3 separate regions of the Homo sapiens genome follow, and all the other regions are linked to region 2. The links come from fine-mapping of genetic effects on gene expression. A gene starts in region 2. Each other region holds a variant in brackets. All regions are shown on one strand. Distances are between the middles of the regions.

Region 1 (2,759 bases), 260 kb after region 2:
ACCTCAGCCTCCTGGGCAGCTGGGACAACAAGCACAGCCACCTCAGCCAGCTAATTTATTTTTTGTAGAGACAGGGTCTCCCTATGTTGCCCAGGCTAATCTCAAACCCCTGGGCTCAAGTGATCCACCTCAGCCTCTCAAAGTTTTGGGATTACAGGCATGAGCCACCGAACCTGGCCAAGAATGGGGACTTTATTTTCCAGCCAAAAAACTTGTATTGGCTTTGCAGCACCAACAGGCCCTATAATGAAGGCATTTCCTGAACTGAGTGACTTTTGGTGAGTGAAACCAGTCTTTGTGGAATAGGACTCAAGGCTCGCATCCCACACCTCATGATGAAGTTCTCCATTTACCAGGGTCATATCCTCCTGTTCCTACTCTGTATGGGAAGGAAGGGGAATTGTGCAAGAATTAGTCACTCATTCCTTTCTGTTCCTAAACCACTTTGTACTTTTCTGCTTCAACACTATGTTATTATAGTCATTTAATAACTTATATTTGTTTTTTGTAGAGATGGGGGACCTTGTTATGTTGCTCAGGCTGGTCTCAAACTCCTGGGCTCAAGCAATCCTCCCACCTTGGCCTCTCAAAGTGTTGGGATTACAGGCATAAGCTGCTGCAACTGGCCTATTTAATAACTTTATCCTCCTTTGGAACTGGATACTCTCCTTGGGGTAATGATTTTTTTTATTCTTCTTTGTAAATGTTCGAATACCTAGAACAATACCCACCATCATTGAGTAGGTGCCAATTTAGTGAATGAAAAGAAAGCAGACATTTGGATAATTTGCTTCTATTTGAATTTTTGAATGAAGATTGAATAGTAAGGAACATATAGTCCAGTGCCGTACCTAGCTGGATGACTTCGTCTTCTGCTTATCTAGATCAGTAAATCATATGGTTGGAGTAGATGAGACATTACTAACCACAGGTCATTGGACTCCAGGCGATTTTTGAGCCCTTACCTCAAGCAACGTTAAAAACCACAAGGATCAGATGGCTTGGCAAAGCTCTACTATACTACTCAGTTACATGTACTGTGATTGCAATAACATACGTGGAAACCAAAATGACATGTGCCTGTGGTGTCTAGCTATACACTGACACACACTCTCCAGCTTGTTGGTGCCTTTTCAGAGCCCCTTTGCTTGGCCTCAAAAGGTAAGATGAGGACAAATTCTAATATATATATATATTTTTTGAGATGGAGGGTGGAGTGCAGTGGTGCAATCCCGGCTCACTGCAACCTCCGACTCCTGGGTTCAGGTTATTCTCCTGCCTCAGCCTCCCGAGTAGCTGAGATTACAGGCGTGTGCCACCACATCCGGCTAATTTTTGTATTTTTTGTAGAGACGGGGTTTCACTATGTTAGCCAGGCTGGTCTCGAACTCCTGACCTCAAGTCATCCGCCCGCCTCGGCCTCTCAGAAGTGCTGGGATTACAGACGTGAGCCACCGCGCCCGGCCCCAGATTCTAATAAATATTTTCAATGCTGACTGTCTAAATCCCTCTGGCCCCTCTTAATAGACCCCTGACCAGTCGACACTGAGGTAAGTGCTTTATGCATGCAGAAAGGGTGCACAAATACTAGTTAGTTCCAGCACCAGGGAGGTTGGGAGTCTGGCGTCGAAGAGAGTATTTAACAGAAA[A/T]GATTCGAAGGGCGGCGGGACCGACCACCGCCGCGTAGAGGGGCTATGCTGACAGCTGGGTAGATCAGAAACCCGACTGACGATCCCGAGGTCATTCTTCCCGCGCCCCCACCGGCCTCTGCGCTCTCTCAGGAGGCAGAGCGACCGCGCGGTCCGGAGGCCCCAGCGTTTCCCGTCGTTGGCGACTCTGAAATTGCCTTTTGGAACAAAACTTGGGTCGGGAAGGAGGCGAAGGGGAAAGCGGTGTGAAGTCCTCGGTACGGAAGAGTGAGCGGCGCTGTACCCGGCGGCCAGAGAAAAAGCTTCCCAACCCGGACATTGAGCAAAAGCCCCGCGCTCGACTCCCCTAGCGGCGCCCGCGTTCGGCCACCTCCGGGGGAGTTTCGGCTCTTTCCGTCAGTTCAGCTCGGGCCCTCCGTTCCCGGCGCGCGCCGGGTCCCTAACCGATGCCGCCGGGTACGAGCTGTGCTGCACGCGGACGCGAGCTCGCGTCCCACCCGTTTTCCCCTTCCATCTACTTTGTCCCCAACCCTCTCCCCGAGTCTCTTCCTTTCCCCGGTAATTCCCAGTCTCCGGTGGCGCGCGAGCCTGCGGACGGTGCGAGACGCGAGGGACCGGGCCCCGAGAAGAGCGGTAACCCGACTGGTCGGAGCCCGCCTCTCGCCGCCCCGCGCCTCTCCCCGATCTTCTCGGTCTCCGGTGCGCGGGCCGTCTCGCCGCTCGAGCCGCGCTCGCGCACCCGTTGGCTGCCACAGCCTCGAGCTTGGCGCGCCGGATTCGCGCCGGCGCGAGTACGCGCCCTGAGCTCTGGCTGGCTGGCTGGCGCGCACGCGCCCGAGAGGGCTCCGGGGCGGGGCGAGCCGCTGCCTGGGCGAGGGTCGGGGTGATCTGCTGGATCTCCGGCAGCATCCTGCAGTCCGGCCCAGGAGAGAAGTGGGGAGGCGGCGGTGGGGGCGGGGCGGCGTCCGGCTCTGAGAGAGCTGGGGGAGGAGCGCGGCGGCGACGGCGGCGGTGGCTCTAGAAGGGGAGGTGGAGGATCTCCTTTCCTCTTCTCAGACCCGGGAGCGTCCGGGACGCGGAGCCCGGAGCTGGGGCGACGAGGCGATTGCG
Region 2 (2,759 bases):
CGCTCTAAGTGGCAGGGAGGGCGTAAGGAACAGCAGCCAGGTACCCTCTGAAGCCCTGGGAGGACCACTCACTGGGGAAACCCCGGAATGGCTGAGAGGCTGGGAACCCAGCCTTGCAGGGTTTCAAACAAACACCAATGAGAAAGAAAAAAGACGGGGGAATACTTGGTTGTTCCTCATCTCTACATATTAGGATCCACCCCAGCAAGACTCCTTTCTTCCAAAGCAGATGACCCACCAAGTCCCCAGGTTCCTCCCGTCTGCCATCCCTACACCTCCCCTCTTTTCTGGAATCAAGCTCAGTGTGACGACGTCTCCCCTTCATCCAACGTCAGCTGAGTTTGCCCTCAACCCAGTTTGAGAAGCAAACCCATCCTTCCCCGATTATCAGACTAAGGCAGACTCCGCAGGCTCTCAGACCCCGGAGACCCCCAACAGGAAGACGCGCTGGGTGAGGGGTGGGAGGGAGGGGCAGGGGAGGGGCGTGTGGGGGAGGAACGGAAACGACGGCCTTTGTTTATCGCTCAGGGACCCAGCTGATCCCATCTAGGGGATCGCTAGCCGGGCACCCGCCCTTCTGCCCGGACGGAGGCCTCCGTCGCCCGCCGCTGGCCCAGGCATGGTTTGACGGCACTCTGAGACCAGGTGGGCTCGGACCCCAACCTCCCCGTCTCCCGCAACCCCCGCTTCTCCTCGCCGGGGCCCCGCACTCACAATACACTCGCGGATCCTCTCGTGGAATAGCTGTTCTCGCACGGATAGCACTTCGTAGTCAGGTGCTTCCATACTCTGCTCAGCATGACTGAAGCCGAGGTGCCTCTGGGCCCGGGGAGGACGAGCGGGGAGGAAGCCGCCGCCGCCAAGCACCCAGACCCAGCCTAGGGGCCTTTCCTCGCAGCCTGCGACAGAAACTCGGGGCAGTCTGGGGCTCAGATACAGTCGTCCGGACGCCCCGCCCTTAAAGGGGCAGGCACCACCCGCCTCGTTTTAAAGGGCTCTGTCCTCCCTTTGCTCCCCACTCTTTAAGGTCGGGTCGCGCTCACGTTTCAATGCAAACACCCGCCACTAGGCTCGCTACGAGGAAGCGCCGCTGAGGGTCCATCTTTTTAAGAGATCTAGTGACGACACAAGGGATGGGCGGGTTCCTTCCAGGGGGAGGAACTCATTGGCTCCTGGAGAGCTGTCGTTCATCGCTGGAGGAGCGCTGATAGGCTCGCCCTGTGGAGGAAGGCGGGATCTTTTGGGCCTACCGCTGCCCATACTAATAGAGCAACTGTCTCTCTTATCTGGGAAAAGTGAAGGTTCCTGGATTTTAGTAGCAGCCAACATTTTAGTATGACCTTGGTTAAATGAACCGTTTGAAGCAGGCCAGCCAGGCAGGATGTGAGGGCACCCTAGGGGTTCTGAAATGTACCGCTGCCCAGTAACCGATGTTCTGTAGTAGCATTTTCTGTGTGTTTGTGTTGGGGTGCCCCTCCCCACATCCCCACCCCGCTTTCCCGCTGCCAGGAGTTTTCATTCAATCATTTTTGTGGAAGACCTAGTGTGTGCTAGAACAAATACTGAAAAATACTGGAGAGAGGACTACAGAAATACCTTGCAACTTTGTGAAGAAATGCCCACAAGGATCACTGAAGAGTGGGGCTGAGTCAAACATTAGCTAACCACTTACTATGTGCCATTCACTTTATAGTCGTTATCTCAGCCATGTTACCCAGGCTGATCTCGGACTCCTAGTCTCAAAGTGATGGGCCTCCCAAAGTACTGGGATTACAAGGCGTGACCCACCCAGCCTATTATCTCATTTTTAACGTCACAACAACACTTCAGAGGAAGATGTTGTGATTCAGCTTTTATTTCTTTATTTATTTTTGAGACGGAGTTTCGCTCTTATTGCCCAGGCTGCAGTGCAATGGTGTGATTTCGGCTCACTGCAACCTCCGCCTCCCGGGTTCAAGCGATTCTCCTTCCTCAGCCTCCCAAGTAACTGGGATTACAGGCATGCGCCACCGCGCCCAGCTAATTTTGTATTTTTAGTAAAGACGTGGTTTCTCCATGTTGGTCAGGCTCATCTTGAACTCCCAACCTTAGTTGATCCGCCCGCCTCGGCTTCCCAAAGTGCTGGGATTACAGGCGTGAGCCACCACGTCCGGCCAAGATTTTGTGTGTGTGTGTGTGTGTGTGTGTGTGTGTGTGTGTGTGTGTGTGTGTGTGTGTGTGTGTCTTGGAAGTAGACAGGATTTAGACGAAGGGAGATTTTCTTTTAAGTTATTTATTTTTGAGACAGTCTCACTCTGTCGCCCAGGCTGGTGTGCAGTGGTGCGATCACGACTCACTGTAGCCTCCAACTCCAAGGCTCAAGTGATCTTCCCATCTCAGTCTCTTGAGCAGCTGGGATCACAGGCAGGCACCAGCACACTTAGCTGATTCTGCCATGTTGCTCAGTCTGGTCTTGAACTCCTGGGCCCAAGCTGTCGGCCTGCCTTGACCTCCCAAAGTGCAGGGATTACAGGCGTGAGCCAACAGACCCGACCTCCTCTAAATTCTTAAAGCAACATCCAGCTGCATAGTTCAGTGAGCAGTTAAAAATTGGCCATTAGCCGCGCGCGGTGGCTCACGCCTGCAATCCCAGTACTTTGGGAGGCTGAAGCGGGCGGATCAAGAGGTCAGGAGATCGAGACCATCCTGCCTAACACGGTGAAACCCCATCTCTACTTAAAACATAAAAAATTAGCCGGGCGTGGTGGCAGGTGCCTGTA
Region 3 (2,759 bases), 63 kb after region 2:
TAGAGGCACTTCTTTTATTTATTTATAATTTGCAAGCCTGAGAAGAGAAAACTAGATCCAGGATCTGTGATTTTTCTAAGAATTACAGAATCTATGTAATCATATGTACTTATTGGTTAAATTCTCATTATTATTATTATTGTTATTATTATTTTTTGAGACAGAGTTTCACTCTTGTTGCCCAGGCTGGAGTGCAATGGCGCAGTCTTGGCTTATTGCAACCTCCGCCTCCCGGGTTCCAGTGATTCTCCTGCCTCAGACTCCTGAGTAGCTGGGATTACAGGCCTGTGCTACCACGCCTGGCTAATTTTTGTAATTTTAGTAGAGACAGGGTTTCACTATGTTGGCCAGACTGGTCTCTAACTCCTGACCTCAGGTGATCCACCTGCCTCGGCCTCCCAAAGTGCTGAGATTATAGGCGTAAGCCACCGTACCCGGCCATGCGTGATTCACTTCTTATTAGCTACAGCAAAAGTGATGAGATGTCACTTCCGATATTACATTACAAAAAGACTGTGACTTTCATCTTGGCAGCTCTCTCTTGCTGTCTTGCTCACTTGTCCTGAGGGAAGCCATTTGCTGTCTGCTACTCTTTGGAGAGGCCCTTGCGGCAAGGAATTGTGGGAGGTTTCTGACCAACAGGCAAAAAGACCTTAAATATCTGGCCTTCAATATCCTGGACACCCAACACCCAAAGGTGCATTGAGCTGTTGTTTCCTTATATAATCCCTAACATGGGAGCCAGTCAGTCTGCCTACCAGGCCTCTGCCTAGGTCCCTGATGTTTTCCCCTTGTGTTATTTCTTGGATACCTGGCCTGATCTCTTTAAGCTCCTTTCTCTAGGGTTAGCTCCTCTTCGTCTTATTACATTGGACTTTCTTTTAATTTTTATTTTATTCATTTAATTTTTTTTTTGAGACGGATTTTTGTTCTGTTGTCCAGGCTGGAGTGCAGTGGTGCGATCTTGGCTTACTGCAACCTCCGCCTCCCAGGTTCAAGCGATTCTCCTGCCTCAGTCTCCTGAGTAGCTGGGACTACAGGCATGTGCCACAACGCCCAGCTGATATTTTGTATTTTTAGTAGAGACAGGGTTTCACCATGTTAGCCAGGATGGTATCTATCTCCTGACCTTGTGATCTGCCCGCCTTGGCCTCCCAAAGTGCTAGGATTACAGGCGTAAGCCACCCTGCCTGGCCTCATTTAATTTTTTTTAAAGATAGGGTCTCCTCTCTATCACCCAAGATGAAGTGCAATGATGTGATCATGGCTCACTGCAGCCTTGACCACCTAGGCTCAAGTGATCTTCCTGCCTCAGCCTCCTGAGTAGCT[G/A]GGACTACAGACATTGGCCACCACACTCAGCTGATTTATTTTTTGTAGAGACAGGGTCTCGCCATGTTGCCCAGGCTTGTCTCAAACTCCTGGCCCAAGTGATACTCCTACCTCAGCCTTCCAAAATGCTGGGATTACAAGTGTGAGCCACTGAGCCCAACTTTATACTGGACCTTTTGATTCATTACTTCTGATGCTGGATTGGAAATGGTGGTATGTTACTGTCATTCTCATTTTCTTTTCTTTTCTTTTTTTCTTTTTTTTTTTTTTTGAGACAGAGTCTTGCTCTGTTGCCCAGGCTGGAATACAGTGGCCAATCATAGCTCACTGCACCTTGATCTCCCAGGCTCAAGAGATCTTCCTGTCTCAGCTTCCTGAGTGTCTGGGACTCCAGGCACTGCCACTGCACACAGCTAATTAAATTTTTCTTTTTTCTTTTTTCTTTTTTTTAAGAGAGACTGGGTCGTGTTATGTTGTGCAGGCTGGTCTCAAACTCCTGGCCTCAAGCGATACTCCTGCCTCAGCCTCCCAAAATGTTGATATTACAGGCATGTGCTACTGTCCACGGCAAGTGTCATTTTCTTTCTACAGCTGTTTCCTACCTCCTTACTCCATTTACTAGATGGAAGCCTGCCCTATGTCTCAGGGTTTTTTTGTTTTTGTTTTTTGTGGTTTTTTTTGAGACAGGGTCTTGCTCTGTCGTCTAGGCTGGAGTGCAGTGATATGATCACAGCTCACTGCAGCCTTGCACTCCTGAGCTCAAGGGATCCTCCTGCCTTGGCCACCTAAGTAGCTAGGACTACAGGGCTGCGCCACCACGCCCAGCTAATTAAAAAAAATTGTTTTGACTGGGCACATTGGCTCACGCTTGTAATACCAGCACTTTGGGAGGCCAAGGCAGGTGAATCACTTGAGGCCAGGAGTTCAAGACTAGCCTGGCAGACATGGTGAAACCCAGTTTCTACTAAAATAAAATTACAGGCCAGGCTCGGTGGCTTATGCCTCTAATCCCAGCACTTTGGGAGACTAAGGTGGGTGGATCACGAGGTCGAGAGATCGAGACCCTCCTGGCCAACATGCTGAAACACTGTCTCTACTAAAAATACAAAAATTAGCTGGGCATGGTGGCATGCGCCTGTGGTCCCAGCTACTTGGGAGGCTGAGCCAGGAGAATCGCTTGAACCCAGCAGGCGGAGGTTGCTGTGAGTCGAGATCGCACCACTGCACTCTAACCTGGCGACAGAGACTGTCTTAAAAAAACAAAAAACAAAAAAAAAAAGTTTTTTTGTTTTTTTTTTTTTAGAGATAAGGCCTCCCAAAGTGCTGGGATTACAGGCATGAGCCACTGCACCCTGCCTCAGTCAATTTTTTTTTTTTTTTTGAGACGGAGTTTTGCTCTTATTGCCCAGGCTGGAGTGCAATGGCGTGAT

Evidence for each region. PIP is the estimated chance that this variant, and not a neighbour inherited with it, causes the effect.
Region 1: its variant is fine-mapped to the expression of LMBR1L in whole blood (INTERVAL, PIP 0.98).
Region 3: its variant is fine-mapped to the expression of LMBR1L in whole blood (INTERVAL, PIP 0.94).

What each region holds. Positions count from the first base shown.
Region 1 is chr12:49,364,815-49,367,573 of GRCh38, forward strand. SPATS2 (spermatogenesis associated serine rich 2) reads left to right here and starts at 2,648. Exons shown (of 14, transcript NM_023071.4): 1 at 2,648-2,759. RefSeq lists an enhancer at 1,728-1,987 and a silencer at 2,278-2,757. The variant A/T (reference allele first, on the strand shown) is at 1,650.
Region 2 is chr12:49,109,770-49,112,528 of GRCh38, forward strand. It overlaps LMBR1L (limb development membrane protein 1 like), which reads right to left and starts at 1,078. Exons shown (of 17, transcript NM_018113.4): 1 at 715-1,078. The coding sequence starts at 786. RefSeq lists an enhancer at 247-786 and a silencer at 1,644-1,824.
Region 3 is chr12:49,172,336-49,175,094 of GRCh38, forward strand. No RefSeq gene overlaps it. Among named protein-coding and RNA genes, the nearest start is that of TUBA1A, 15 kb to the right of the region's middle. RefSeq lists a silencer at 1,089-1,294. The variant G/A (reference allele first, on the strand shown) is at 1,330.